Linked DNA regions of Homo sapiens. The protein of the gene in region 1 purifies or fractionates together with the protein of each later gene. This does not show direct contact. Each region holds a gene or a part of one and is shown in the gene's direction. Other genes may lie near its edges. The genes, in order: ILDR1 and HECW2.

What was found.
Region 2: the proteins of ILDR1 (region 1) and HECW2 purify together in Homo sapiens (affinity purification with mass spectrometry; one large-scale study listed by BioGRID and IntAct). This does not show direct contact.

What each region holds. Positions count from the first base shown.
Region 1 is NC_000003.12:122,008,546-122,012,368, reverse strand, and holds part of ILDR1 (immunoglobulin-like domain-containing receptor 1 isoform 1 precursor), read left to right. Parts: intron 1-3,823. UniProt on the Homo sapiens protein: Maintains epithelial barrier function by recruiting MARVELD2/tricellulin to tricellular tight junctions (tTJs).
Region 2 is NC_000002.12:196,219,462-196,223,284, reverse strand, and holds part of HECW2 (E3 ubiquitin-protein ligase HECW2), read left to right. Parts: intron 1-944; coding exon 945-1,074; intron 1,075-2,343; coding exon 2,344-2,490; intron 2,491-3,131; coding exon 3,132-3,246; intron 3,247-3,823. UniProt on the Homo sapiens protein: E3 ubiquitin-protein ligase that mediates ubiquitination of TP73. Acts to stabilize TP73 and enhance activation of transcription by TP73. Involved in the regulation of mitotic metaphase/anaphase transition.

The sequences.
Region 1 (3,823 bases):
AGGAGAAAATTCCACAGGATAAAGGAATTTTAAGAATAGAAAAAAAATTAAGAATTTGAAAACTTGTAGTAAGCCTGAAAGAGCAAAGTTGCAACCAGGATGACTACAATCAGGACGTTTCTCTTTTTTGATCCTGTTCACATTTTCAGCCTGATTTGCTGCTTTGGGTCCTTTCTTGAAAACTCCACCTGCTTAGTTCTGTGCATGCCCAGTGTGGTTAGGTTTACAGAGAAGTTAGAGGATATAGGAAAAGAAAGTGGGTGATTTTTGCCTTTGAGATGGACTGTCTTGCTACTGCCTTTCCTTCCCAATCTGGAAAATCTGACTGCTTTTTAAGAGCCTGGCGCCTGACTTCTACTTTGGAAGATCAAGCTTGCTTGCTTGGGAAAAATTGGGATTTGTTGTCAGCAAGGCCCAAGCTCAAATCCTGATGCTGACACTTTTTAGGTATGTGATGTTGGACACGTGGGGGTGTGGCTTATACTCTGAGCTGAACTTCTGCCCACCTATATGAGCAGGGCTGTTGCCTAGCTGAGGGGGTTTGTGAGATTTAGAGACCAAGAATGTACATCACCCGGTGCATAATAGATGCTAAGGACCCACAGCAACAACTGAGATATGGGAGAAGAGTTTGCTGGGTTGTTCAGTACCTCTTCTCCTGGGACTCTTCCCGTGTGTGTGTGTGTGTGTGAAAGAGAGAGAGAGAGAGAGAGAAAGAGAGACAGGGCAGGGGGTGGACGTTTGAGGTCTGCACAGGATGCTGTGGGGCTGGCTGGCAGACCCCTGGAGAGAGTGTGAATGAGCTCAAGATGGCCAGAACTTGTTGAACCTGGCAGATATCAAGGCTTGATATTCACACAGGGATGAAATAGAAGAGAAGATAAAAGAGTACCCAAGCAGCAAAGTCAGTGCTGACGTTGGTAAAGGTGAGTTTTGTCACCCCAAATGTGGTTTGTCCACAATAAGGGCATTCATGGAAGGGGAGCTGAGTGATCACCTTTCTCCCCATTTCCCCTCCTCAAGGGTGTCAGATTCTGCAATCTTCAAAGCTACCCCACAGCAATTTCTGACTCTAACCAAATTCCTTTTTCTGACCCCCAGCAAACCTGGTCTCCCTGCTCCCAAATGCGCTACCTCTATACAGGTGATATTGACTAGAGTGTTGATTAAACTGCTATTTATATCAAATTACATTCAGCCAAATAAGGAGCCTACATGTTCTTTATTTTACTGTGTCAGAGTGACTGCACCAGTTATATTTTAATTATTGCTCACATAGCCTGGCCCCCAGCTCAAATTATTTGCAAACTTGTGAATACCAATTATCTTTTATTTAAAGAATAGCCAAGCTGAGAGGCAGGAGCACTGCTCAGGGACAGAATCTCGACTCTGACCCCCTTAGAAAAAACGAATGACCACAGACAAGTCCCTTAAATTTCCAAGCCTCAGATTTGTTGTACAGGAAGTGAGCACAGCTAATCTTCTCCCAGGTATCACATTTAGTATATAAAAGAATATATTTGAAGATGCTGTTGAACCTAAGATTTTATTTAGACCAATATCAGTGTTTTCCTCTCTCTTCTCATCGGTATGTGTGTTATGGAACAAAATAAGCCAGTGTTGACAATGGCAACCTATTCATTGTGAAAATCTTATCTGTGGCTGCTTCTACTATTCAGATAAAACTGTGGTTGGTGAGATCTCCAAGGTCTATTTCAGGTCAGTTCTGGAAGAAAAGAAACAAACAAACAAAAAACAAAAAACACACAAAGGGGTAGTCACAGAGAAAGAACAAGAACCAAAAATTAGATTAAGAAAGCCATGTTAGGCTTGAGATGCTGGTCACCGGCCCTTCCATTCTAATTGGCCTGATTTCTGGGACTCTACAGCTTACGGAGACAGCAGCTTTTTTTCCCAAAACCACTCAAGGTTTATTTTTAAAATGATATATATTTTTTTTTCATTTACAGCTGAGTGGGGAAGTCATCTATCTTCCTAAAAACACCACTTTCACTGTATTACTGTTCTTCAGAAAAGACTTCAGTGATGATCCATGGACAAGAAATTGAACTGGATTGTGATTTAGACTTCACCCCATCGCCCCACCTCCCACTCACCACCACCAGCCCCGCCTTATTTATCTTCTCTGTTTTCCATAAAGCTGGAGACACAGCTAGATTGGTTTCCCCCAGGTTACCCAAGTAACTGCCCCTTCCTAATAAGGCTCTTTGCTCCCTCCTTTCTTGCTTACTGAAACAATGAGTTTCTCTGCCTTCTTCCTACTTCTCATGCGTGATCTTAGTTCTACCTGCTTCTTGGAGCCTAGGTTAAATCATTTCCTTTCATGAAGTCTTCCTGCCCACAGCTCTCGCCTGCACTGCCGCAGAGTCTCTATCCAGCACATCTGCCATGGGGCATCTGCATCACAGCCCAGTCCTGGAGATAGGTGGTCAGGTCATTTCTGTGAGTGCCTGTCCTGAGCAGCATTCTGCTGTCTGTCTATGGATGTGAGAAACCCAGATGCAGGTGCCTATCAGAAGTTTAAGGGGACAGTCTTACAAGGGCTGTGACCAGTAGGTCAGGCAGGACCCAAGAATCATGTGCTCTAGCGTTCAAGACAGGCCCACCTAGCTGCTCCGTAGGATAATAACTACATTTGTTTTGTTTGTGGGAGTACCTTGGTCAAAATGAAGGTGGCTCCGTTTGAAAACTCTGTTGGAGAAAACCCCAACTCCAACCTCTTTCTCCTTGGCCCTCGTAATAAGGGGAAAAAAAGGAAGAGACTCACATACTGACACTAATGTGGCAGTGTATGTGCAAGGCTTCATGCCAAGGACAGTAGATTATCTCATTGCATTCTTGCAAGGACCTGATAAGGCTAGCACTATCATCATCTTCATTCATGGCTGAGAAACTAGCTCAGAGAGAGAGTAAATAACTTGTCCAAAATTCAAGTAAATATTAAAGTTTAATTTGAACCCAGCTGTATCTGAATCTAAAGCCTGTGTGTGTGTGTGTGTGTGTGTGTGTGTGTGTGTGTGTGTTTTAAATTGAGTCTACACCAGTGGTTCTCAGAGTATGGTCCTTAGAGCAGTAGCATCAGCATCTCCTGGAAATTAGTTAGAAATTTATATCAATTGCTGTGTGCAGTGGCTCACGCCTATAACCCCAGCACTTTGGGAGGCTGAGGCTGGAGGATTGCTTGAGGTTAGGAGTTCAAGACCAGCCTGGGCAACATAGCAAGACTTCATCTCTACTAAAAATTTAAAAAGTCAGGCATGGTGGTGCATGCCTGTAGTCTCAGCTACTTGGGAGGCTGAGATGGGAGGATCACTTGAACCCAGGAGGTCAACGTTGCAGTGAGCCATGATTGCGCCACTGCACTCTAGCCTGGGCAACAGAGCAAGACTGTATCTCAAAAAAAAAGAAAAAAAGAAAGAAAGAAAGAAAAAAAGAAGGCCAGGTGCAGTGGCTCAGGCCGGGCGCAGTGGCTCACACCTGTAATCCCAGCACTTTGGGAGGCTGAGGCGGGTGGATCATTTCAGGTCAGGAGTTTGAGCCTAGCCTGGCCAACATGGTGAAACCCTGCATCTACTAAAATACAAAAATTAGCCAGGTGTGATGGTAGGCGCCTGTGATCCCAGCTACTTGGGAGGCTGAGGCAGGAGAATCCCATGAACCCGAGAGGTGGAGGTGGCAGTGAGCTGAGATCGTGCCATTGCACTCCAGCCTGAGTGACAGAGCGAGACTCTATCTCAAAAAAAAAAAAAAAAAAGAAAAGAAAAGAAAAGAAAAGAAAAGAAATAAAAAATGCGTGTCTCTG
Region 2 (3,823 bases), on another chromosome or scaffold:
ATTGAAGTGTGACATAGATTTTAAAAGTACATGAATTTTAAGTGTTACCAATCTTATGTTATCACTTATCGCTTTATATTAACTTATCTGTTTGTGTACTTGGCTCCCCAACTAGCCCATTAGCTCCTGGGGGTAGTGACTATTCATCAAGTAGCTATTCAGATGTCTGGTACATGCTTGATGCCTAATGAATGTTCAGATTGAACTGAAAAAAAATGACCCTTAAAATTGGGTTAAGGGGAGTGAAATTTCAAAACAGCTATAGCAAATCAATGACTACCACTGTACAACTGGGCCATGGAACAGTAACTTACCTCATGTCGATTCTTTCTCTACAATTAAAAAAAGTGGGGGAAAAATACAGATTGACGGCAGGTTCTGTGGCTTACTATTTTCAGAATAAGAACCATGAAGAAAAAGGGAATGTATGTGAAGATGAATCATGTCTTTAATAAAAAATAAAATAAAATAAATATTAAAATAAAAATCATGTCTTTCAATTAAAAAAAGTTAAAATATAGAAATATATAAATAATTTCAAATTAAGATAACAGTATTTTAAGGTAGTATAATATGGCCAGAAAGAATAATGGATCCAAGTTGTCAACCCGAGTGCCAGTTCCTGATCTGGCATTGATGATGGATGACTGCGCAGATGGCACTCATTCTTTGCACCTCCAGTTCTGTGTCTATAAAGGAAGACGCAGGCTGAATGATTCCTGTGGCATATTATATATTTAGGACTTTCTAATTTTATAACAAATTTCTGAATTATTTCACTGGTTTGGTTTAATTACTGGACTTGGACTAAGAACATTCCAGAAATCACTGCCTATGTAGTGGCTCTTATTCTTCTCTTTAATTCTTAGTTTCTTTCCTTATGACTCTGGGTTTTTGCTAATAGCCATGCCTACATATTTGTTTCTGTCTGTTTGTCATCTTAGTCTATGTGACCTGAGTGACCTAGAATACCTTGATGAAGAGTTCCATCAGAGCCTGCAGTGGATGAAAGACAATGATATCCATGACATCCTAGACCTCACGTTCACTGTGAACGAAGAAGTATTTGGGCAGGTGTGTGTATCTGCACACCTGGCGCCTAAGTGTGGTAACTGAAGGCTATTGATGAGTGAAGAATTAACTCCATGGCTAAGATCAGATGCTTATTTATTCGTGGTTTATTGGGTGATTTAAACTCAGGATCACACACAGTTATAATAACCGCAGTTATAAAGATTAGAATTAATGTCAGCTGCAGATTAAGATGCTGTAAATTACAGATGGTGATAACTGTTTATGTTGTAAGCAATCTTCTTTTTATTTCCAACTAAAATATCCCCCAAAATATGAGAATTTACCTTATATAGAATGCAGTTTTTTAAAGTCCACACTACAGAATTTTTTAATTGGCATTTATAGAATGGTGGCTGGGCACGGTGGCTCATGCCTGTAATCCCAGCACTTTGGGAGGCCAAGGCAGGAGGATCAGTTGAGCCTAGAAGTTCAGGACCAGCCTAGGCAACATGGTGAAACCCTATCTCTACAAAAAATACAAAAATTAGCCAGGTGTGGTGGCACATACCTGTAGTCCCAGCTACTCAGGAGGCCAAGGTGGGAGGGTCACCTGAGCTGGAGAGGTTGAGGCTGCAGTGAGCCTGGATCATGCCACTGCACTCTAGCCTGGGGGACGAGAGTGAGACCCTGTCTCAAAAAAGAAAAGAAAAATAAAGAGAACCAAAATTGATTTTTTTGAAGCTAAGGGAACATAAACAATGTTTTGGGGAAGACTTAAGAACAGAATATATTAATTTTTTTTTCAAAATTGGTGGAAGAGTAGGGAAAACGTTTCTTCCAGAAATTATATACCAGTTTATAATTAATATTCTTATTTAGGCATTAATCTTTAGCTGCTTTTCTGCATTCCATGTGTTTTGAAAAAGTTCTCAATTTAACATTCACTTGAGTGTAATTCTGCTTTAAAGTAAATCTTTACGCTAGATATAGTCAATTCTGAGAAATTTGTGAAAATGGGTTTTGTCAAACATTCAAATAGTAGCAGGCTAGTATCTGAAGCCGATTCATCGGCATTTTAAAACTTAACCTGTAGTAACAGCAATACATATATATACTTTAATCACCAAAGCTTTCAAGCACCCCCTCAATGCCTATTTTTTCCTGAGTGTGTGTGCTCCGTGAGTGCCTGGGGCCTCACTGCCAGCTTGTGGGATGTGCCTAGGGCAGGGCTGGGACAGGTAGCTGGCTGATTTCAGCTCAATGCTAGTAATGTTGTTATAACATTAAGAGTATTGCTTTGTAGTCATTCTTTTTATTTTGTAATCTCAGATAACTGAACGAGAATTAAAGCCAGGGGGTGCCAATATCCCAGTTACAGAGAAGAACAAGAAGGAGTACATCGAGAGGATGGTGAAGTGGAGGATTGAGAGGGGTGTTGTACAGCAAACAGAGAGCTTAGTGCGTGGCTTCTATGAGGTAAAGACAATCAGCAGTAGGAGGAGTTTGCAGTCTGATATCAATGATGCCACAGTCCATCTTATTGTACTTTACATGTGTAGACTATTTCTGCTGTATTTACTGTTGCTCTTTCCATGCGAAAAGTTCAGTATTTTTTCCCTTATGTTTCAAGAGCACCAAAAGAAGCTTAACTCACTGTTACGAGAGATCACTGAAATAAATGTTATGGACTGCATTCAAGTAGCATTTGTTGATTTAATGACCACTAGTAACATTTAAGCCATGCATCTTATGCTTAGATATGGGTAATCAAATCTCATGCTTGCTATGTGAAATAATTATATCTGAGATCAGAATGAGTTGGCATGTATTGTATGTGACTTTTTCTGTAGAAACACTAGATAGTTTCCTAAAGGTGGACGGGACCTAGATTAATCAGCAATCAATTATAAAACAAAAATTCTGTCAAGGCAAATCTCATCAACCTTATACTAAAGAATGCCTTATATTTGTAGGGAGCTTTACAGGTTTTCAAGTGCCAACACAAGGTACACACATATTATTCCTGAAACTCCATGTGTCCCCTTTTCTAAGGCTTAATTATAGCTGATATTTCTCCAGGCTCCTAAGCCATGCCTTGTACTCTTTTTATTCCACAGGTGGTGGATGCCAGGCTGGTATCTGTTTTTGATGCAAGAGAACTGGAATTGGTCATCGCAGGCACAGCTGAAATAGACCTAAGTGATTGGAGAAACAACACAGAATATAGAGGAGGTGAAATTTGATTTATAGATGGCTAGATTTTAAATTTCAAATTAAAGGAAGGCATGGTTCAGCTTGCCAACTGAATATAGGACAGGCAACAGCACTTGGACTCTAATCATAGGTCTGATGCAGGCTCCCTTGAGACCTTGGGCAAGGTACATTCTCTTCTTTTCCTAATTACCTCATCTGTCAGATGGGAGAAGGACTGTTTACACACCGTCAAAGGATGTCATAACTCTTAATTGTTGGTGAGGAAATGTGACCGTAAGAACACTAATTAATTACTTTATCGTGTTGTCAGTGAAGCACCAAGGAGCTAACATCCAGCTGGTCAAACTCCACCTATTCCATTTTGTTTCTAAAACTTAGAAAAGCACACCCTTTGAGCTTCCCAATCAGCACAGTTTTTCCACTGTTCACTACGCTCCTTATCAGTTGTAATTCATAGTCAGAACACTTGAATGGAATAAGACACAGTTCCCAAAATACAACATTATTGGAGAAGTTCTAAATTCAAGCATGAATTTCAAGTGAAAAGAAGACTGTAGTAAGATTAATTAAAAACTGCACTATCTGACACTTCACA